Regions from separate parts of the Homo sapiens genome. Here all the other regions are linked to region 1. The links come from fine-mapping of genetic effects on gene expression. A gene starts in region 1. Each other region holds a variant in brackets. All regions are shown on one strand. Distances are between the middles of the regions.

The links.
Region 2: its variant is fine-mapped to the expression of CLEC1A in blood mononuclear cells (TOPMed, PIP 0.90).
Region 3: its variant is fine-mapped to the expression of CLEC1A in whole blood (INTERVAL, PIP above 0.99).

Annotation. Positions count from the first base shown.
Region 1 is chr12:10,094,761-10,102,945 of GRCh38, forward strand. CLEC1A (C-type lectin domain family 1 member A) reads right to left here and starts at 4,225. Exons shown (of 6, transcript NM_016511.4): 1 at 4,048-4,225. The coding sequence starts at 4,162.
Region 2 is chr12:10,165,513-10,173,697 of GRCh38, forward strand. It overlaps OLR1 (oxidized low density lipoprotein receptor 1), which reads right to left and starts at 6,620. Exons shown (of 6, transcript NM_002543.4): 1 at 6,490-6,620; 2 at 3,562-3,663; 3 at 1,200-1,445. The coding sequence starts at 6,565. It also overlaps a transcript of TMEM52B not described here. RefSeq lists a silencer at 2,205-2,405. The variant ATAAC/A (reference allele first, on the strand shown) is at 4,168.
Region 3 is chr12:10,126,180-10,134,364 of GRCh38, forward strand. It overlaps CLEC7A (C-type lectin domain containing 7A), which reads right to left and starts at 4,020. Exons shown (of 6, transcript NM_197947.3): 1 at 3,801-4,020; 2 at 1,568-1,666; 3 at 392-529. The coding sequence starts at 3,903. LOC105369655 (a long non-coding RNA gene) reads left to right here. Exons shown (of 4, transcript XR_007063208.1): 2 at 4,902-5,061; 3 at 5,506-5,613; 4 at 7,107-7,435. RefSeq lists an enhancer at 7,559-8,185. The variant ACTGT/A (reference allele first, on the strand shown) is at 3,968.

The sequences.
Region 1 (8,185 bases):
CAGCAAGATGAATTCTGAAAGCATAAATTTAATCATACTTCCTCTCTTCCATAGGAAGAAGTTTCCCAAGGCTCTTTCTGTTTTAGTCAGTTTCTTAGTGTACTGTATCAGGCTCCTCCTAATAGGATCCCATTTTACTTCTTAGCCTCATGGGTCCAGATCATGTCACTTCCTCTGGGAACTCGCAAAACTAAACTCAATCAGTAACTCATTCATTCCTATATTGCTTCTGCGGCCTCCAACATTGATTTAATAGCACTAAATGACATTTACTACAACTATTGATTTAGAGTATTCCTTCCACTTCTCTAAGCACCTGAAAAAGAGGCTCCTCTAGTACATCCCATAATGTCTTGTCATTAGTAGGTTTGATTTAAAGAGTTGTTGAATCAGTTAACAGCGATTTATGTCATGACTGTGATGAGGGATTTATGCTGTAATTGAGGAAATAAAACTAAAACGCTGGGAAATTCAATAGTACTGTAATTAATGTGAACAAGGGAAAAGAGGAACTTGAATTTATTATTAAATTTTTTAAAATTATTTAACCAAAGTAATTTTTCATATTCTTTTGATAGGATAAAATTTAGTCTCTGGCAGGAATCTCAGCCTGTCAGTTATTTCATCCTCTCTCCTCTTACTGTACTGTTAATGTGAAGTTCTCTCCCTGAACTTATTTTCAATCTACAATTGAGTTAGAATTTCCCACATCTTAAAAAATCATTCTTAAAATCTGTCACCCAATGCTGTAATACCTCAGCAATAACCCATTTTATCTTCAAAAAAAAAGAGAGAAAGAAAAAGAGAAAATGACTTAAATTGTTTATTTTATTATGTAACCATCAGTTCCTTTTCAAACCACTGCTGTCAAAACTAAATATTTTCCTCCTTATTGATAAATTGTTAAATAATCATTTTAGTCTTCCTTTCGCTTAAACTCTCTGCAGTATTTGTTATTTGTTGTTTTTAAAACTCACAGTCATTATCATTGACTTTTCTAAAACTCTTGAATTTATTGTCCTTCCATTACTCTAATTTTCCATTACTCTTGAATTTATTGTCTCTTGATGCCCTTGTTGTCTCTCTCCAAGACTCCTGCTTCTACCACTCTCTGCTATTCATCCCTGGTAGCTCCTTTTGGAATCTTTCATTCTTCTTGCTCCTCAGGTGTTGATATTCCCTCAGATTATCTCCTTGACACTCTCTTCTGTTCATTCATGTTTTCATTTTACATTCCTTCCCTCAGTGATCTCACTCACTCTCATACATTTTAGTTACTAGCCATTTATTTGACTTAATGACTTAGGTACCTCATTTACTTTATTTATTTAATTACTATGCCAGTAATTCCCACATGTCTATGTAGCCCAACCCACATCCTGCATATACGGGTGTCTTTGGACAGCTCCAAATGCATGTCCCTCCTTCTGCAGACCCCTTAAACTCAAACTCAATTCATCATCTTTCCTGTCCCTTCTATAGTTTCTGTCTCAGTTAACATCAGCACCATCTACATTACATCAAACAGAACCTAGTCAACCTACCACCGAAGTCCCTTTCCTTGTCTCCTCACATGTAACCAATCACCGATTATCTAAACTCCAACACCTCGACATCTTTCATATCTGATTCTTTTTCCTTATTTTTACTATACTGCCTCAGTTCAGGTTTTTCTACCCTTGTACTGGACTAGTGGAAAAATTTGGTATCAGCACATGCAGTTTCATATACCTTCAACTTATCATTTCCATTGCAGCCAGGAAGGTCTTTCCAAAATGCAAAATTTTGTTTCTCCCTATCTAAATCCTGCATTGACTTCATTTTAACTATTGAATAGAATTAAACTAGATCAGCATGCCCTAAAATCCCTCCTTAACTTGCCAGACTTACCCCTTTGCTAAGTTTCCCTCCTCCAACTCTACACCTACGCCATACATATTGCTTATAGTTCTCTAAAAATACAAAGCTACTGAAAACCTTCATGACTTTCCCTTCATACGTCTCTCTGTCTATAGTGTCCCCAGCCTCTCAAACACCCTCACTCCCGATTCCTTATTATGTGGAAGATGTTAAAATTAACTCAACTCCACAGTTGCTCCTTCTGTTAAGCCTTTCCTGAACTCCTCTACTTAATTAGGTAAAAATTAAGCCGAGAGCTTGGTTAAGCTCTCGGCTGTACTGTACATGCTTCTGCCATAACACCTTATTATACTTACTCCTTAGTTGAGAATTGTATTAGACTTTCAATTTCCTTATGAACAGGGACCATATCACATTGGACATTATATCCTCAGTACTAGGATAACATGACCCCAAACATAAGTTTGTGAAAAATGTATGAGGTTGTTGTTTTTCATTTTCACTATCTTAATTGTTTGGCATTTTTACTATCTTAATTGTTTGGCATTTTTAAACACAAACATAGTTGTTACGTCAATTGTTATTGACAAAAGTCTAGAAATTAAATGAATGTGTGTGTGATTTATTTTTATTAATTCTAAAAAATAAAAGTTGCCAGCTCTTAATGGTATCACATCATTATGTTGAATCTGAATCCTCCACATTGCCGAAAATTTCTGAGTGATTTCTGCTGTTATTTTTATCAGCGAAGGTATATCAGATATGTTTATCTAAGAAATAATTATACTTCTATGATGGTATTCCCCTAAATGTTTGTATTACCATAAAAAGATGAAAACAAGATCTCATATATGTTGCCTAAGATAACTATTTCCAGATGATTTCTTCCAAGACAATTCTTTGTAATCTCCACTTCTACTGTTTCAATATCCATTTCTTACAAAGAAGCTCCCAGATGTTGCAGCTAGTGTTTTATCTTGCTCCACCTCCCTCTCCACCCTTCAACCTCAGCAGAACTTATTTGTACATGCTGTTCTTAATTATGCTGATCTCTAGTCCTTGACAGAGTTCCTGGCTCCAGTCAAAGGTGGAAAATGAAGTTATATACAAGCTACTCAAAACCACAGCCGTAAAAATGGACTCTTCGTAAGTTTTTTTGGAGGAAAACGCTTTGTATCCTATTACACATATCCTGTGGCTACAAAAGCTGACATCCCTACTTTTGTCACTTAGCTTCATTTCAAAGAGGTTGGAAATCCCCAATGTCCCTTAACAGCTTACTGGGTAGTTTAGTTAAAAAAAAAAAAAGCCATATTAGTAGGTTTCAGGTGGAGGGTCATTTAATAAATAGAAATAAATAGAAAGTGAATGGAGGGTTTAGTAGGAGAAAGGAAGGAAAACTAAAAGTTATTTGATAAAGAAATAAGGAACAGGATAGTTTTTTTTTTTTAAAGGTATATCCAGATTTACAAAGGTGAAGAAAACAATGATATAATCAGAAGGGAAAGGGCATATTAAAACACAGGCACTGAATGAATGTTAAAATGTGGGATTCCTTTCAACATTCCATTTCTTAAGAACCTAAAGTGTTCCTTTCAGCAATTTTGTGTCAGTCTATATCAGATCAGACAGACATTCAAATATTTTACATAATTTATCATTCTCAGTACTCACAACCACCTTGTAAAGGAAGTTTTATTACTTCTATTTAATATTAAGTCAAGTTAATATGAATTAATATACTTAAAGTATTTAAAACACTGCCAGCACATAATGAGCCCTTTATACATGTTTGTGGCCGTTAATATTTTATAAATAAAGAATATGATGCTACCAGGATACTTAAACAACTCATCCAAAGTTACACAGAAGGAAAGTGGCATACCTGGTTTAGGACCTAGAACCTAGTCCTGTGTATATTACCATGTGAGTCCTTTTCACTAGAACTGAAGTCATATTTTAGCTTTAGATTGGCTGAGTGGCCCAGGAAATAAAATCCTTCTCTAAGTGTGGGAATTATGGAACTGAATATAACTGAAAAAAAAAAATCACTACTATGTCACAGGGCGAGTAATTGGAAATAAAATTATAAGATGCAAGCTAAATATCTCCATTTCTAGGAGGGATAGATCATCTCACACATTTCACAAGGACTGTGGTCTATTTGGACTCCAGGAGACAGGGTACCTGTGCGCCGGGGCTCTGGATGCCGAGTTGTGGCAGAGCCTTGAGAATGCAGGCTCATGGTGGTGTCCCCATCATCATCCAGCATGTCCCTCGTGCTGCTGTACTTGGCCTGCATCTGGATTCCTACAGCGGTGAGAGTGAAATGTGGTCGGATTGCCCTGGGCCGCCGGGCTACTGTGAGCTAGTTCAGGAAGCAAGGCACTAAAAGGCATTCCTAATGTTCTTTCCCAGCGAGGGGCAGGGAAAGTCTCTGACTGCAATTCCTGACTGGACAGGCCCAGCCCCTCTCCTGTGAGCTTGTACTCTGAATGCCAAATCAGTCAGGCTGAGGGGAAATAGCATGTGTTTTCTGTTTAGGCCGTCTCAGTCTAAACAGTTGTCAAAAAGTTGGCCTTTCTCAGGTCTTTTTTGTTTACCTGTTTGCATTTCTCATGTAACTTCACTGTAAAGAAGGCAAGAACTTACAATAGCACGGTGTAGCACTGTGGTTCCTTCAGAGTCTGCAGAATAATAATAACTTGGAAGGACACACATCCCTGTTTCTTACCCATCCTTTAGGGAGTCACTTAGTTTAACCTCTCTGTGTCTTTGTGAAAAGAGAAGAGATTATAGGACCTAGCCCCTTCCTTTCTCCAAGAACAGAGTAGTGGTCTTTCTTATAGTATCTGAACTTGATTCAACATTTTATAGCACATTTGGTACATTATGATCACGAGGAATTATACAATTTACTGGAAGTAAAAACTTTTAAAACTATTACTAACCACCATGTGGTTTGGGGAAGCCAGTTCATTTGTGCCTAAATCTCCTAAACTGAGAAGAAAATGTTTTAGGTAATGTGAAAAAATTCTTCCTGAATCAGTACATTAGAATTATATTCCCATCTTAGTCTGTTTGTGCTGACCTACAACAGGATACCTGAGACCAGATAAATTATAAGCAATAGAAATGTATTTCTCAGCATTCCAGAAGGTGGGAAATCTAAGATCAAGGCACTGGCAGGTTTGGATGTCAGGTGAGAGCTGCACTCTCTGTAGAGGAGGAAGGGTATTCTCACGTGGCAGAAAGCAGAAGGTCAAGCCAGCCAAATGCTACATGTAGCGTCTTTTATAAAGGCCTTAATACCATCCTCAAGAGAGAAGACTTCAAGGACTAATCATCTCTTAAAGGCCCCACCTCTCTCAATACTACCACACTGGCAACACCTGAATTCTGCAGGAAACACATTCAAACCATAACAAGACAGGTATCAGTAACAACCTTGTGCCTTTGGGAGGACAATTAACAATTTGCATCTACATTTCCTAAACTGAAAGACAAGAAGATTGTTTTAGATAATGTCTAAAAGTTCTTCCTGAATCTGTACAATAGACTTATATTACTCTACCAAAACTTTTCCAGATGTTAGGTGATAGGTGGGCAAAATCAAGCATGCTAAATATAAAGGAGTGTCAGAATGCTCCAGTTGGGGTAGCCAGACCATATAAAAGATCTATGAGGAAGTGCACATTGTGGATTCACATGTGTTTCAAGCTGTTTGTTGTTCATCAAATTATTCTAAATTTTTTAAAAATTGGAATTTTTTTTTTTTTAGATGGCAGATTGGAGGCAGTGTTAGCATGACTCTACCACTTGGAAGGACAAAATAGTGAGTAAAAAATTCTCACTGTGGGCCAGCCATGGTGGTCACGCCTTTAATCCCAGCACTTTGGGAGGCTGAGGTGGGTGGATCACCTGAGGTCAGGAGTTCGAGACCAGCCTGACCAACATGGCAAAACCCCGTTTCTACTGAAAATATGAAAATTAGCCGGGCGTGGTGGCGGGTGCCTATAATACCAGCTACTGGGGAGGCTGAGGTAGGAGAATCACTTGAATCCGGGAGGCGGAGGTTGCAGTGAGCCAAGATCACACCACTGCACTCCAGCCTGGGCAACAGAGCGAGACTCCATCTGAAAAAAAAAAAAAAAAAAAAAAACCTTCTCACTGTGAACTCTTTTCCCAAGAAGCAACACAGGAACTGAACAGGAAAACTGAAAGAATCCACAGACTCTTTGAAAGAAGCAGCAGGTTATACCTACACCATGAGCTAGGTGAAAAACTGTAAGCTCCCAGGGTGTGTGAGGTGAAGAGACTGGCTCCAGGATACATACCCCCACAGGGGAACCTGAAAGTCCATGCCATGGGGGAAGGCCTTAACCCGTCCCAGCACTGGAACCAATTAAAAGAGCAGTGATGAATATAAAAGTAAGAGCAGCAGCAGGAAGAGGCTTGTGTGCATTCCCAGTCTCCAGCATGAGCCAAGGGAAACTATTCCTTATGCCTCACAGACAACCTCACGGAACTCAGCCAACTAGCTCAGCCAGGGGTTGCACATTGTAAAAACTCCCAACTGAAATTCACAATATAACCTCAAGTGAAATGAACTCCCTTGGCCAGAACCAGAAAGGTGAGTGGGAAATGTGTTGCAGCCGTGAGTGCAGGATCTGGGTGCCAGCTGTGTGGGTGGACAGAGAGGGGCATGGCCTGAACGCCAGCAGTTGCTATCACCACGGGAAAAGTTTATGGCCTCAGGCAGTTGTGAGCTCTGAGTGCAGACTGCCTGGAACTTAGCTCACTGCTGCTAGCAGAGTACTGCAGGAGCCAGATCTGCCTTGCCAACTGTGTGACATCTGGGTTAGGCTTACTGCTGCCTACTACTCCCCACTCCCTGTGCAACCACATCTCCAAAAGGGGCCGCTGCTTGCCATGCACATGGTGACTCAGAGTGCAGACCCACCTAACACAGCCCTCATCTGGCTTTGCCCCTCCACCCACCGTGGTAGCTTAATACAAAGGACAGAAACCCTGGGGAGATTTATAGCCCCATCCATCACCTGAGAAGCCAGACTACCTACCCTGGGCAACATAAGGCAAGCACAAATCCCACTGCTACTACCACACCTGATACTCTTTTGCAAATGCCACCCAGTAGCTGGAAGCCTACCAACACAGTCCATTGCAGCATCTGTAGGTGGAATAACACTGCACTCAAGAAGGACAAAACTACTGTGTGACCTCAGCTATTACCACTTCCTGCACTACCCTGTCTAACCAGGAGGTCCTGAGTCTATCCACATGACCAGTTTATTACTACCTGAACTAGCATTCAAGAAAGACAACACACTAAAGTTATCTATAATCAAGGAATCTCACAGGTCTATGTCACGCCTCTGGCACCCCCATCAGACCTGGTGCTGATAACAGCTGCTGGAAAACTGGAGGACAGGTCATATCACTGGATCCTTAGCAGACATCCCCCAGCACTAGTCTGGAGCCACTGAGTGGCTAGACCCTGAGGAGCAGCAGCACTCATAGTAGTCTGTCTCTCAGGAACTTCTACTCCTAAGGAAAGGGAGAGTGTGCCACATCAAGGGAACACCCTGTGTGAATAAAGAATCCAGATGGCAGGTCTTAAGGATTAGATTGTTCCACTGGTGGGAAGTTTCTTTCAATAGAGGCAGAATTGAAGTGCTGGGCTCAGCAGGGAATGTCTACAGCTGTCCCAACAGTCAGACAGCCCTGGTGCTTATCAAGGATCTTGGAGAAGGGGACTTCTTACCAACCTCGTCCACCACTGCAGACACAGCTGGGTCTTCTCCCACAAGAGCTCAGCATGGGTGCACCCATAGACAGACTTTGTAGAACACTTCAGGGTGACCGCAACCCCACAGGGGAAGCAACCCTCCAGTTTCAGGCTTACATAAGAGGCAGAGTCACAGTTCTCTACTTGGAGCACTAACATTCCAGCAGATGAAAAGAGAGGCCTGTCTGATCTGAATAGCCAGAATATTGGGACAGATGTGAGTCTGGGAGATGGATAGCTTCCCAGCTGACCTGACAGGGGAGCTAAGGTGGCTACCACCCTTCCCCTGATAAGACTTCAGTGTGTCTCCCTGACAGCTCCCCCAGCCCCTTTTGTCAAGGCTGAGACCTCTGCCCACCATTGGGTATTGCATTTACCCACCTTCTTTAGCCACAACTGGTTCCTACCTAGGAACACCTCCACTACTGGCCTGAAGCCTGAACCATCAACCCAGTGAATAAAATACTGGAGCAAAGTAAATAAATTTAAAAGTGCATACCACATTGGAATGAGATA
Region 2 (8,185 bases), 71 kb after region 1:
GTAGACAGTTGCAAGGACAAAAAGATCCCTTAGAAAAAGAAATACAGTGATTAAAATGCATTGGAATGGAAAGAGATAAGGATCTATGGAATGGGGTGGGGGTGGCAGAATTCTTCAAGAAAAATGTCAAAACTGCTACTAGGGAGGCTGAGGCAAGAGAATCACTTGAACCCAGGAGGTGGAGGTTGCAGTGAGCTGAGATCACACCACTGCATTCCAGCCTGGGTGTGACACAGCGAGACTGTCTCAAAAAATAAAAAAAAAGAAAGAAAAATCTCAAAACTAAAATTTTAAAAAGAAGAGGCTCTTATAAAGAAGGAAAACTTAAATCCACCAAAAGGTATGCTTAATTAAATCAGATTTTTCAAGGATTTGACACAGCATAGGGTGGTTCTGATTAAAAATTTAGAACTTCTTGCCGGGTGCGGTGGCTCACACCTGTAATCCCAGCACTTTGGGAGGCTGAGGCAGGCGGATGACTTGAGGTGAGGAGTTTGAGACCAGCCTGTTCAATATGGCAAAACCCTGTCTCTACTAAAAGTACAAAAATTAGTTGGGCATGGTGGCTCATGTTTGTAATCCCAAGCACTTTGGGAGGCTGAGGCAGGAGAACTGCTTGAACCCAAGAAGCAGAAGCTTATTGAACTGAGATCACACCACTGCTTTCCAGCCTGGGTGACAGAGCAAGACTCCGTCTAAAATTAAAAAATAATAATAAAATAAATAAAAAATTGACCGAGAGCGGTGGCTCATGCCTGTAATCCTAGCACTTTGGGAGGCCAAGATGGGTGGATCACCTGAGGTCAGGAGTTCGCGACCAGCCTAGCCAACATGGTGAAACCCTGTCTCTACTGAAAATACAAAAATTAGCTGGGCGTGGTGATGGGAGCCTGTAGTCCCAACGACTTGGGAGGCTGAGGCAAGAGAATCACTTGAACCCAGGGGGTGGAGGTTGCAGTGAGCAGAGATCACACCACTTCACTCCAGCCTGGGCAAAAGAGCGAAACTCCATCTAAAAAAAAAAAAGAAAAAGAAAGAAAAAGAAAAAGAAATTGAGAACTTCTTGTATAGAACATTATGAATGAATAATGATATGCATAACAATAGACCAATTTTGAGCCCAGAATTGTTTCCAAAAAATAGTTATGATTGGACAGAAAGCTTCCACTATGTCTCCTTACCCACCCTTCTCCCAATACCTGAACAATTTGCTACTCTCTTCAGTGTTTCTTGGAGATTCAGATTCTGGTGGTGAAGTTCCATTTGCTCTTTGGATTTCTCATTCAGCTTCCGAGCAAGGGTTTCTATCATTTCCTTGAGTTCGTTTTCTGACTCCTGTGAAGCTTCTTCTGCTTGTTGCCGGGCTGAGATCTGTCCCTCCAGTTTCTTTTTCTGGTGAGTTAGGTTTGCTTGCTCTTGTGTTAGGAGGTCAGACACCTGGGATACTGAATCACAGTTGCATTAAGACTCTAGTTCTAATCCAAATAAAAATCCCTCCAGGGACTTTTTGAGGAAATCAAAACAGAATTAAATCTATTTTGACAATAGATAAGCTGCTGAAAAATGACCCAGATTTACTCAGAAGTTACAGATTTGGAGGTTCTTGAATATTCCTGCAGTATTTTGTTTAATGTCAGGAACATTGCAAACACTTGTAATTTTTTTAAAAATTACCAAGATTTTGGCCAGGCACGGTGGCTCAGGTCTGTAATCCCAGCACTTTGGGAGGCCGAGGCAGGCAGATCACGAGGTCAAGAGATAGAGACCATCCTGGCCAACATGGTGAAACCCCATCTCTACTAAAAATACCAAAGAAATTAGCTGAGGGTGGTGGCACGCGCCTGTAGTCCCAACTACTCAGGAGGCTGAGGCAGGGGAATCACAGTGCCACTGCACTCCAGCCTGGCGACAGAGGGGGACTGTCTCAAAAAAAATAAAAAACAACAACAACAACAAAAAAAACCCAAGATTTTTTTTTATTGAGTTACAAATGAAAAGTAATCACAAGATAACCAGTACAGCATTAGAATAAATAAAATAAGGAAAACCTGAAACAGACACCCACCAGACTCAGTGACTATTAGTAGGAAATGTCATTAGCGATTTACTCTATTTATGTCTCAATTCCTCTGCTGTGTCTCCTCCCATTCTGTCTACTCTTCCAGACTTCCTAATTTTAAGAACTGTGACATACACCCCTTTTTTGAGACAGCCACGCACACTGTGTCACAAGAGTCTCCAAGAATTTTTTCTTTTCTTTTTTTTTTCCCCTTGGCCACGGTACATTTTAGGAAGGGTGAAGATAAAGTGAAGGTTGTGAAATCAAGCAGGCGATAACATGTTAAGGGTCAAATGTCTCAGTTCCTGAATTTTGATGGTGCAATACAAAGCAGACCGCTTGGTTTGAAGGCAGCTTTGATCCTGTTATAAGATGATCAAAGGCTCAAAAGATTTTTCTGGTCACCACCACTAAGTCAAGGGCACTTCTCCTTGTCACTAGGAAAGGCCCTAAGTATTTACAAATTTAAAATAAAATAGTTTGTGAGCTTGAACAACAGTTAGGAAGCAAATAGCACTTCAATGGCCATAATAACCTGGATCCTGGGTAGCCTAAACAACTCAGTTCTACAACCTAAATTCACAGGCAGTTCAGGTGAACGTTGGGCACCATTTTCTTTCCTTCTTGGCCACTCTGGGCCATCTTTTCACTTCTTTTTTTCCCTCAATATCTTCTCTTTTCTAAATGCTCTTATTATAAATGTGAAATATATTTTATTTTAAATGTTTTATTTATTAAGATTGTGTTTCTGGTTCTTAACATTAAAATGGTATTTAATTATCTCTATCAAAACTCAGCAAGCTAAATAAAATTTCTTTTACTTTTGGGCCTCTCAGATGATCTTGGATATTAGTAACTTTAAGTTATTATCTTCTCCATCATTCTAGAATTTAAATAGGCTCTATCCATGAGGTTGGTTTTTTGTTTGTTTGTTTTGTTTGAAATGGAGTCTCGCTCTGTTGCCCAGGCTGGAGTGCAATGGTGCAGTCTCAGCTCACTGCAAATTCCACCTCCCCGGTTCAAGCTATTCTCCTACCTCAGCCTCCTGAGTAGCTGGGATTACAAGCATGTGCCACCACACCCGGCTACTTTTTGTATTTTTAGTAGAGATGGGGTTTCACCATGTTGGCCAGGCTGGTCTTGAACTCCTGACCTCAGGTGGTCCACCCACCTTGGCCTCCCAAAGTGCTGGGATTACAGGTGTGAGCCACCGCACCCGGCCTATCCATGAAGTTATGAAAACAAAAGAAACAAAACAAAACAAAACAAACAAACAAAAAAATGCCTACCAATTGTAATTTTTATTTCATGGCTCTATCCATTGGAAGATGAACAATATACCCCTTTATTTTCATGGTCACTCTTAAAAACATTTTGCCTAAAATGAATCTATATCAAGGCTGTTTGTAGTTGTTATGAAAGAAACTTATAAACCATATTTATTAACCTCATTTCCAACACCCCTGCCCCAATAAACATCAGTTCCGTATTTTAGCACTTACATTGCATGCCCAGCACCATAATGGTCACTACTAATCCCAGGCAAAGGACCCCTAGAGTCGCAGCAGCCAGGCACCACCATGGAGAGTAAAGAAACTGAAGACCTAGAGTGACAGAGGATAGAATCAGAAAGACAAAAAAGAGTGAACAAGTAAGCAAACCATTCCTTGGAGCCTGTCTGTACTTGGTGATTTACTCTGTTTATGTTTTAGTAAATAGACATAAATAGTTTGCATTCCATACCACTAGTCCTCCAAATGGCTCTGCAAATAATTCATCATACACATTTAGGAATGGAAAACAGGGAGAGTTAAGGAATTTAAGTAATTTACCCATGGTCACACAGCCAGTAAATTCAGAGCCAGGATTCGATACCAGATATTTGAATCTAAATATATGATTCTAAAGCTTATACTTTATCTACTTTCCCGACAATTACTCCTCAAGAAACTCACAGTCTAGCTTGGTTGGATCAAATTCATCCACAGTGCAGAGAGCCTGAAGTTTTTAATATACACCACGTGTACACATGTGCACACAAAAGTAACATAAATATCAGACATCAAGCAAACAAGCTTTCTTCAGTTAATCAACTGAGATTACCTCAA[ATAAC/A]TTTATGAATAATTTTATGCTATTCAATTATGAGTCCACCAAAATTACAACCTGGAACTGGGGTTATTAATCAAAGAAAAGTAGGGATGAAACCTTGATATTAATTTAGCTTATATTAACAGCATATCCTACACTCACGCCAAGTGTAGGCTTGATTTTACAAGAGAAATATTCACCATTTTGAAAAAAAAATCACATAGCTCACAGGTGTATGAATATACAATTATGTGTTCCACCACTAAAAAAAAAAAAATCACAGATATTACTGGTTGTGTAGGAAAACATCCCATACAATGTATTTGGTTTCCTCACCTTGTGAGATAAACAAATAAGGTACTCCTATCATTATCCTCTGTATGCAAATAAGGAGACTGAAAGGTTTAGTGACTTGCTTAAGATCACACAGATGCTAAAACCCAAAAATAAGTCTTTAGTCTAATTGTCAGTAGCTACATGACTTGAAATATTATAATACAATTTCCAGTGTGAATGTATAATGATCCAGTCAAGCAGTGGTCAGATATATTCAAAGTTTTCATATGTCAAAGGTAGTGTGTTAGACTCCACAAATGATAAAAAGAAGATAGAAACTTGACAGGGATAAATATGGTTCATCTTCTGATTCAATACTTACTGGCTTCTAGAGTGTGTGTGGCAAGCTAGCAGAGAAGTTGTAGAAGATAGCTGTGTCTCTTGCAAATAATTGCCTAATTCTAGCCTCAGGGGCAAATACCTCTATGTAAATCTTTCAACTCTGTGGTCACTGTTCATTCCACATTGTAGGGCATCAGATACCCTCATCGTGCTCTTTTTTTTTTTTTTTTTTTTGAGGGGGAGCTTGCTCTTCGCCCAGGCTGGAGTGCCATGGCGCCATCTCAGGTCACTGCAACCTCCGCCTCCTGGGTTCGAGTGATTCTCCTGCCTCAGCCTCCTGAGCAGCTGGGATTGCAGCCGCGCACCACCACAGCAGGTTAAATTTTGTATTTTTAGTACAGATGAGGTTTCACCGTGCTGGTCTCGAACTCCTGACCTCATGATCCGCCCACCTCAGCCTCCCAAAGTGCTGGGATTACAGGCGTGAGCCACCGCGCCTGGCCTCATCACTCTTAAATAATGAAAAACTAAATTTTTAGAGGAAAAAGAAAATCACAGGACCCTGTGAAGGAAGGTATGTGTTCCCTTTTTCTATAGATTCTCTTTGTCCTGTGTCCTTGGTAGGCAGAGACCATTAATCCAACTGCTGCCCCTACTAGTGATTTTCCAATCATAAACCAATCCGATTCTTTGCAGTAGGTACCGATCTAACCAAGATTCTGAAAGAAAAATCAATCTCATGATTATTGTAAAATTCAGACCCTCAATATTTACTACACAAATAATGAATGAGTAAAGAAACGAATGACTATTGTTCACTTCTGGTTTTACCTATAAATATCAGCAGTTTTTATAGCAATTTAGTTCATTGGCTCAAATGTTAAATCACTCCATGCTCACACTTATGTTCTCTATTGAGAGAAATTTCTGTTTTGTTTTTGGAAATGTAATTTGGAATTTCTTTATCCAAATTTCTGACAATACTTGTCTCTCTTTCTCTCCTTATATTCTGTTCATTTTCCTCAGAACAGATATAGAATAAAAGGCAATTTACCCAGATTGTCTGTGGAATTGGGATTATGAATTAATTTATAGCTATGCAATTTAATTACTGTATGGGTCAAACAGAACTTACAATTTTTCAAAGCAGTAGTACACAACAAAATGTAACTTATGCTAAACTATACTGAATATCATTTACTTTGCCTGCATAATTCATGAGGTACTTCAGGTTTTTGTAGTGCCTGAAGGACTCTTACAGAAATTATCGTTATATACACCAGATAAATTTGGTTCCCGAGCCCTCCGATGTATAGAATTCTGGATAAATGGGAGTTTGTGGTACAGTCCTAGCTCTACCACTTATTAGCTCCGTGAAACTGGATGATGTTGTTAGTCCTCCTGATGCCCAGTTAGCTCTCTGTAAAAGGGAGATAGTAATAGTACCAATCTCAAAATGTTATTGCGAAGATTCTGAGAAATAATACTCTGAAAGTGAATAACATATAGAATAACCTGTAGTAAATACTCAGTATAAATTGTTATAAATAAGTTGTCATCATCATCATCATTATAGCCTTCTTGTTTTTCTTTTAAGTAAATGGTATTAATTCTATTTTCCCATACTTGGGTGTTTAGCTTTCTAATCCCATTCTTCGGTGAATTTACATTTTGGGGCTAACACTGGGATTCTTTCCCTGTACACATTTTCCCATCCCTAGTACCTTTAGCTTTTTTTCCATTTGACTTCTCATCAGGCTGGTCCTTCACAGTCTGGATCTTTAGGTCATCAAAAGTCATTTCCAAATTCAAGCTAAGAATGAGAGAGTGAAGCAGTCACGAACTTCAACAAACTAAAAATATGTGAGCTTCTGCAGAAGTATTTAAATAGCTACTGTTATCTAATAGAAGAATGACTCAATCATTGGTAGGAGGAAGGAGAGGCTTTGCTTCATATTGGGAAGTTCGCTGACGCAAATTCTTGAGTTATGTGTATTGCAGGTGGAGAAAGTGGTGATTCTGAAGGTGTTTCAGGATATTTCGCTAAGTAATTTATGAAAGGGAAAACTATTTTTCATGAGCATCAGAGGAGAGATATTGTACCCACTCTTCAGAGACAGAAACTGAAATTCAAAGAGAGTAAGTCACACTACATTTGTAAAAAATGTGCCAGAATTATGGGCCAAAATATTTGATTCCAATGTTTGTTTGCTAATTTCATTAGCAGACTGTTTCTATATGGTGTCTTTTACGAATCAGATATATTCTCTTTTGATTTTCACTGTTTTATCTGGCAATGGATCTAAGAATTTTGGGGTGAATCACATATGGCTCCCATTTCCAGCGATGGTGTGTCCTGGGTGATTTTAGAATTTATCTGGGGCTACTAGTTCATGCAGTGCCAGTGTAACGTAGCAGCAGAGAGCACTTTGAATGCAGAAAGAGCTAGTTTCAGTACTTTCCTTTAGTCTACAATCTTGGGAAATCTTAATACTTTGAATCTATGTCTTTGTCTGGAAATTAGGGATAATGTCTACCTGATAACATTGTTATAGGAATTCAAATGACATGTCTGGAAATTAGGGATAATGTCTACCTGATAACATTGTTATAGGAATTCAAATGACATGCTGGGTAAAAATAATAAGCTTTTTTACACTAGGTTTGTGAAAAATGTCACGTTGCTATAGGAATTCAAATGACACGCTGGTTAAAAATGACAAGCTTTGTACTTGGAGCATAATAAGAAGCCAATAAATAATAATTATTAGTATAGTACTAATATTCAGCACAGTTGAATTACCCATCAAATAATGTATTTCAGTAAAATCCATGATTGACTCATGTCACAAAGACGCTTACATGAGAGACCCATAAGTATGTCTATATGTATTTACTGATAGAATACTTTTCTATTTTCCCTTGACAACCTCCTAACCAGATATATATCTATTAGAGATGTCTTCTGAAGGAAGTATTTATAAGCAAAATGATATGATATCTGGCATTTACTTTAAATTACTCCAGGAAAAAAAAGTGCAAAGAAAAGAATACACAAAGGAAGAATGGAAAAATAAATACATAAATAAAACATATAGGAAACTATTAGGAAAAATTACCAATATTGACAGCCTAATTAGGATTCCATTTCCCTCCTCCTCCCTGTTTCCTATATTCCTTTTATTATGTGCAGAGTATTTGAGAACAAATTGAAAAAGTTGGCCAGGTGCAGTGGCTCATGCCTGTAATCTCAGCACTTTGGGAAGCTGAGGGGGGGGGTGGATCACTGAGGTCAGGAGTTCGAGACCAGCCTGGCCAACCTGTTGAAACCCTGTCACCACTAAAAATACAAAAGTTAGCTGGGCCTGGTTGCAAGCCTATAATCCCAGCTATTTGGGAGGTGGAAAATGAAAATGCTTT
Region 3 (8,185 bases), 31 kb after region 1:
CTTCCTTTCTAATGTCATATTTCCTATTCTAACTGTATCGCATTTAAAATGTCAATTCTGTAAGGGGAGAGAACACTTTTCTTTTATTTGTATCAAATTATATGATCTCCTGTAGATCTAAGCACATAGCCAGTGATAAATCAGTTACTGATTTTAAAAATTAATAAAGTCCAATTTAGAACTGTCCAGCCAACTGCATAGGGTACTTATAATTTCACCTTATTGTATATATGACAGGGATACATTACACTAAGGTAATACTAATATGTGTATTTGCCTTAAATTTACAATCATTGAATCTAAGTGTTTTTCTTTACACCCCTGCCCCAGGCTTCAGCACCAAGAATTAACCCTCTTGAGTCAAGATTCCGTCCTTTAACTATGCCCTTGCCTGTGGTTTTGACAGCTTTGGTAGGAGTCACACTGTCTTCTAAAGATGATTGTGTGGGTTGACTGTGGTTCTCTTTATTTCTTGATAGAAAGTAGCCATTCTCCAATGTGTTGCTTCCTGAATTGGATCTCCAAATAGCTTCACATACCAACAATAATAATAGTGACAGAAAAAATGTCATTCTGCTGTGTTTGAAAATTAAAATCCCAAAACCCAAATGTTATTGGAATAAAAGAATACATTATTGATTAATGATAAATAGATGATATATTGCTGTGGAGAGATAAAGACGATTGATAGAATAGATGAAAAGAAATACATAACTTTTATAAAGGAGGTATAGTAAAAAAAAAAAAAGAAAAGAAAAAAGAAGGTGGAGAAGAAGAAATAGAATGAGGGAGGCAGCAAGAGGCAAATGTCATAGAGTCAATTGGACCCATGACAGATTTGAAATAGCAACATCTTTCACCTTTCTTCTGTTATTTAAAAATGAGAGATCCTTGAGAAACTGCCCAGTACCTATAACATAGAACGCACTCAATAAACATTTGACTAATTAAGGAATGTCATGAAGACTCTCTGAAGGTGACTGACAACAGATTGCATGTGATATAAAATGTAAAAAAAATATTAATCCATTACAAAATATCGACTTAAGACCAAGTGCCTCAGGAAATTTCTGGTGTATTCAAAGGTGTTTATATTAAAGATCGGAAATAATTTCCTTAAATAATGTGAATCATAAAAATAGCTTAATGTCCATTTAGTGAATTTATTTCATTAGGAAGACAGCACCATATTGTACTTTCTTCTTCAGCTCCGCTTGTTTTCTTCATTAATTTATCCTTTGAATTCCACAGCTTTGAAACCAGCTATGTAAGGGAGGTAGGAGAGCAATGTAGTTAAGAGTATGAGTTTTTTAGACAGATCACCCAAATTTCTAATCATGGTCCCACCACTAACTAGCTTATAACCCTGGAAAGGTAAAATAACCTCTCAGTCTCTCACACCCTTTATAAGTGAAATGGGCATTAACAGCACCAACCCAATACAGATAAAACCAGATTATATACAAATTAAAGTAGATTATGCATGTCAAGCCCTTAAAAGAGTGCCTGGCACATAATAATTGCTTACTAAATTGTCTGTTGTTAATCTCCTCCACCAAATACTCACCCATGGTACCCAGGACCACAGCTATCACCAGTATTACCAAGCATAGGATTCCCAAAATTACAGCAATGAGGCGCCAAGGAGGAGATGCAGCACACGATCCTGAGGAGCCAGAGGGGGCAGAAATGGAATAAAGAAAGAGAATGACGGATGGTGGGGCAGTTTAATTCTACAGTTCATCAAAAATCTGGCCTTGCACGGTGGCTCACACCTGTAATCCCAGAAGGGAGACTGAGGTAGGAGGATTGCTTGAGGCCAGAAGCTCAAGACCAGCCTGGGCAACACAGGGAGACCCTGTCCCTACCAAAAAAAAAAAAGAAAAACAAAGAAAGAAAAAAAATTTAATTAGCTGGGCATTGTGGTGAGCTCCCGTAGTCCCAGCTACTCTGGAGGCTGTGGCAGGAGGATCACTTGAGCCTAGGAATTCCAGAGCAGCATAGGCAAAAAAGTGATACCCTGTTAAAACACACACACACACACACACACACACACACACACACACACCACCAACAACAACAACAAAAAATACTGGCAAATTTTTAAGTGAATTATTAATCACTGCCTAGGTTACCTGGTCACCTAGGATTTGCTGTGCTTCTCCACCAGTAAGGATACCTTCTTCTTCAATTGCTGGAATTGTAATTTCGGCACATTGGCTTGATAACTGTATGCTCCTAATTTCAGTTCCACATTGACATCTACAGGTCTTGACATTAGTAGGATCCCTGAAATCCCACTGATTCTTAGAGGAAATAGCTTAATGTTGGGGAGATAGCACTGATTACTAAGGGTAATTTTCCCTTTTCATATGTTTGTTGCATGACCCTGGGCAAATTACTCCCTTTGTTGTTTTTTATTCCTCTTTGTGAAACTGGGGTAATAATATCTCAAAGGATTATTGCGGGAATTAAACGAGCTAACACATATAAAAGCACCTTGTTTAGAGACTGCTAGCACATGATAGGTGTGTTGTTGCAGGATACCGTTTGCCTACACATATGCATAAACATGCGCATGTCTCCCTACCTCTTGCCTCATCCACTTTTTCCACGCTTCCTCAATAGGTTGCCCAAGAAAAGAATTACATCAGTGCTGAGAGGAAAATATTTGTGCAGTGTGAATAACCAGAAAGCAGAAGAAAGCAAACTCTGGTGTCAAAACCGACAAATGATCTCTCTCTCTCAAAGATAATAGGGAACTAATTTTGTATGAACATTGCCATAACCAGAATGTATTTCTGCTTTCCACTGTGACTAAGCTGTCAGGACATTTCATAGAATTGTCACATAGGAGAATCGTAGAGTAGGCTAAATCACCCATTCTATGAATACAGAGATCCTCCAATGCCCTTCTTTCTATTTCATTTCATTTACACTTTGTTTAAGACTCATGTCCTGCTGGTGGGATGTTTTTATCTACCATATGTTCATATATTTTCCATCACTGGTATACCAATAATTGTTTTTTGTTTAAAAACAATTTAAATTAATCTCTTACCACAAAAAAAAAATGTTGTTCATATATATACTTCTTTAAGTTTCCTGGCCTCCATTCGATAATCTAGCCTTTCTATCAAACAAGCAACAAGTCACTCATACAGAAATCCTTTATCTTTGTGTATTATCCCACTTATTACCAATTCCTCACTGATGAAATGTCTATATCTATAGAAAAGAGAAATTCTATTTTCTGCCATCAGACATAATTAATTTAAACACTAATAATTGGTCACTGAATAATTTTCATGAAAAAAGGTTTAGGGTGCATTCAATTTATCTTCAGTGACATCTGAAGCCTTTAAAAGTATATCCATAAAAATATACACATCACGAGGCTCTCAAATTTTCTCCCCTTATATCTTTTTGTTTTGTTTTTATTTTTATTTTTTTTCAGAGATGGAGTCTTGCTCTGCCACCCAGGCTGGAGTGCATTGGCATGATCTTGGCTCACTGCAACCTCCACCTCCCAGGTTCAAGTGATTCTCCTGCCTCAGCCTCCCAAGTACCTGGAACTACAGGCGTGCACCACCATGCCCGGCTAATTTTTGTATTTTTAGTAGAGACAGAGTTTCACCACGTTAGCCAAGCTGGCCTCGAACTCCTGACCTCAGTCAATCCACCCGCCTCGGCCTCCCAAAGTGCTGGGATTACAGGTGTGAGCCACCATGCCTAGCCTCCCCTTATATCTTTTCAAACGGGAGAGCTAAAGGCACACATTAGAAAAAACATATATATACCTTTCTCTGAAACAACAGCTATCCTGGTATTGCTTTGAGAGTCGAAGTGTAATTGAGTATATCCATCTTCATCCAAATTTTCTAAATCAGGATGATATTCCATTGTTCTTGAGAGCCCCTGAATAGATATAGCATTTGGGAGCTCTTTTCTTTCTGCTCCTGAGATG[ACTGT/A]CTGTGGACAAAAGAGAATCTCTGAGTCAAATCATGTGGGCTAGGTACTTACCGGAGTTTAACAAATTAAGCTTAAGTAGTTCAACCAGATATTCAAGAGCAGGAAATGAAACTATGCTGTGGTAATTTTCCATTTGTACCTTTAGATCCTGTTTCTGAGACTGCTGACTCAGGAAAACTAAAAGGCAGCATAGCAGATGAGTCTTTGTTTCAGACCAAATGTAAGAAAAATGCATACATTAATGTCTTATGCTGCCTTCATTACTCTCACAACTAAGTCTGACATTAATTAATTTAACCGATGCAAACTATTTCAGTTTTGGTGCTCCAAGTTTACCATAACTTTGTTCATGTATTTATTCATGTATTTTTTAAATTACATAAACAGGTACTGGATGCCCACCTTTTCAATTGGTAGGAGCTTACAATACAAGGAAAAATGATACCTATGAAGAAACTCATTGCTTAATAAAGGAAATATATAGATAGGTAAATGAGGGATGGCATGAGGAGATGCATTGTTGTAACAACAGACAGAGAAAACAAATCTCTTTGGGAATTATCAGATATTAACACAAAATAACATTTATTGAACAATTACTATGAGCTAAGTACCACATGTTGTACATATTTTCTTGTTCAATCTCACTTTTCCAAGTCTATATAGTAGGCATTATTATTTCTATTTTCAAATGAAAAAATGAGACAGAAAATTTAGCCTCTTTCTCAGGTTTAAGAAGCTAATTTTAAAAATTTAGAGCAAGGAATCAAATCAAAGCTGACTCTTGCTGCAAAACTCGTGGTCTTTTCTGTTACGCTACACTGCCTCTTTCATCATTCCATACACTTATATTGCAAGGAACAGCTTATGGAAGGTGTTGGGACTGAAATATTATGTTAGATGTTTGATTTTTTTTCCCTCTCTTCCAGTTTCCATAGTAATGATCAAATCAAAGAAATATAGAAAACACCTAACATTGCTGGAAACTGAAGAGGTGTTCAACTCATTTATCCGACCTTGAAGCCAGTAGAGTGCAGGAGACATCTGAGTGTTGTCAAGGATCAACAAATCTGGATACTAGTTAATGTGGTGAGGACAGGTTTTATTCAGTAATACTATTGCAACAGGAACCAGTGCAGCATTAACTGAACTCAACTTCCCCAAAAGTAAAGCTGATGACATTTTAAAGTGGAGTTTGCTAAGGAAAAGATACTGAGTGGTGTTAAGGAAAGTTAATGTGACTAGACTCTCTGGATTTGTTAATTGGCCCTTATCCAGAGGACAGAGAAACTTTGCCTATCTATATGACAGAAGGACATGGTGATAGTTGAAGTGAAGCACCCAGCTAAGTTGGTCCTTATGCTGCATCTGAAAGAAAGAGCAAGATTTATCTCCCTGAATGTTTGCATTTCAAAGAAACAGCTCCCAAGTCCTTGAAGAAACAGTTCTGTGTGGTAGATTTGCTTCTCAAAGGGCAGAGAAAGAATTTAACTGTAAGATTTATTTTTCTTTTCTTTCTTTTTTTTTTTTTAGACGAAATTTCGCTCTTGTTGCCCAGGCTGGTGTGCAAATGGCACGATCTCGGCTCACCACAACCTCCGCCTCCCGGGTTCAAGCGATTCTCCTGCCTCAGCCTCCTGAGTAAGCTGGGATTACAGGCATGTGCCACCACGCCAGGCTAATTTTGTATTTTTAGTAGAGACAGCATTTCTCCATGTTGGTCAGGCTGGTCTTGAACCCCTGACCTCTGGTGATCCGCCTGCCTCGGCCTCCCAAAGTGCTGGGATTACAGGCGTGAGCCACTGCACCTGGCCTAACTGTAAGATTTCTAAAGTAACTGCTCTAAAAGGAATTCAGGAGCCTATCTGTTACCAAGTTTTTTGTTGTTGTTGTTGTTTTGAGACAGAGTCTCGCTCTGTTGCCCACGCTGGAGTGCAGTGGCGCGATTTCGGCTCACTGCAAGCTCTGCCTCCTGGGTTCACGCCATTCTCCTGCCTCAGCCTCCCAAGTAGCTGGGACTACAGGCGCCCGCCACCATGCCTGGCTAATTTTTTGTATTTTTAGTAGAGACAGGGTTTCATCGTGTTAACCAGAATGGTCTCGATCTCCTGACCTCGTGATCCGCCCGCCTCGGCCTCCCAAGGTGCTGGGATTACACGCATGAGCCACCACACCTGGCCTGTTAACAAGTTTTAACTGGAACAAAAAGTAAATTCTCCTAGCAGCATTGGGCTTCCTCAGGCTGGCCTTTTAAGTAGTGCTGAATCATCCTATGGACCTTGCCTTAGGCTACTAGAAGGCGTGCTAGAGTTTGCCAAGTCTCTAGTGCAGAGATTTGGGAGGAGTTGTTATATGATGAGGGCTCTGCAGTTCTGACAGTCTAACACCTATCAAAATGGAAGAGAGCTCAAGAGAGTACATAAATGAGCTTCCCGCCTTACTTAAGCTGCCACAAAAGTTTTACTAAGTTTTTGTAGACATGTTGCAAAGTGGTAATGTGGATCTTAATCTCAACATTCATCAGTGTTTCAGTCCTATAATGCAGTGCTTGGAAAGCAGCGTATGAGGTTCAGGACATGCAACCCCAAAATATGGATTCTTGGCATTTGAGAAAACAGCAGAATCAGGAAATTCACTCTCACACCTTTCCCCGTCTTTCTGCCCTGAAGCAGATCATAAGACCCTTATTTTAGAAGTATTGTTTCCTAGAGGAAAGAAACTTCCTTATCTTTGAAGATACAGAGATGCCAAGAAGAATCTGAACAAATTAGTCTTGCTAAGCTCCCTCCAGTTTATTAGCATTAGATCATACCCTCCTTGTCCAACGTAGGGGAGAAAAAGTAGTATCTTTTCCTTGCCCATCACCAGGTTCGTGACTGAGACCCCTATAACAAAAGACAGATTAACAAAACAAAAGCATGTAAATGTTATACGACAAGAGAGCCTTCTGAAATGAAGACGCAGGGAAAACTGAGTATTTCTACGGACAGTTATGCAGAAGTATGACTGGAGAACAAAAGGGTATAATCTAATGGTAATAAGCTGAGTAGAACTTAACAAGGCCTGTTTGTTCAGGTAACTTCTATTAAATAAATTTGGATGCTATTCTCTTGTTGATCTATGTTTTATTGTAGATGCCGTGAACCTAGCAATGAGTGAGGAAAAGGAATCTTTCACCCCTACAAAGGGATACCATGGAATTTCTCAAACAGTGAATACATTGGCTCCAGGAAAAAGGGTCGACCTCTTAAATAGAAATAGAGAACTAGAGAACAATAATGAGGGGAGTACCTTGCAGTCAGTAATAAGAAGCTGTCTTTACTATCAAATCAGACCTCCAGTGGGAGAGTTTTTCCCTATAGTGACTTTGACTGTCACCCTGTGTTTAATCACAATCCTATGAAAACAGTTAACTCTCTAAGTGGTCAAAGAAATTTTTCAATAAACATAAACTTTAGTCTAATTCTCATTATTCTCCTTTTTTGTCTCTTTGTCTAAAATAAAGCAATTAAACATTAATTATGCAAATCATTGACAAACTAGAAAAACAATACCCTTCGTATTTCAAGACAGTGGGAGAGATAGGCTGGGTATTCAGAGAAAAATACCCCTCATTAAATGTTAATGCAAGAAACAGGTGGAAGGCCGAGCATGGTGGCTCAGGCCTGTAATTCCTACACTTTGGGAGGCTGAGGCAGGTGGATCACCTGAGGTCAGCAGTTTGAGATCAGTCTGGCAAACATGATGGAACCCCATCTCTACTAAAAATATAAAAAATTAGCTGGGTGGGGTGGCAGGTGCCTTTAATCCCAGCTATTTAGGAGGCTGAGACAGGAGAATCACTTGAACCCAGGAGGTGGAAGTTGTAGTGAGCCAAGATCGTGCCACTGCACCCCAACCTGGGCAACAACAGTGAAACTCCATCTAAAAAAAAAAAAAAAAAAAAAGGAAAGAAACAGGTGGAAACAAACCAACCTAACAAAAGAAAAGACAAAAAACAAACCAGTTATCTAACTTACATTTTCAGTGAAGTTTGTTGAAAACTTTCATCTATAAAACAAGTGGGTCATCCAAGAAAAATGAGCAATCTGGCCGGGTGCAATGGCTCATGCCTGTAATCCCAGCACTTTGGGAGGCAGAGACAGGCAGATCACCTGAGGTCAGGAGTTCGAGACCAGCCTGACAAACATGGAGAAACCTCGTCTCTACTAAA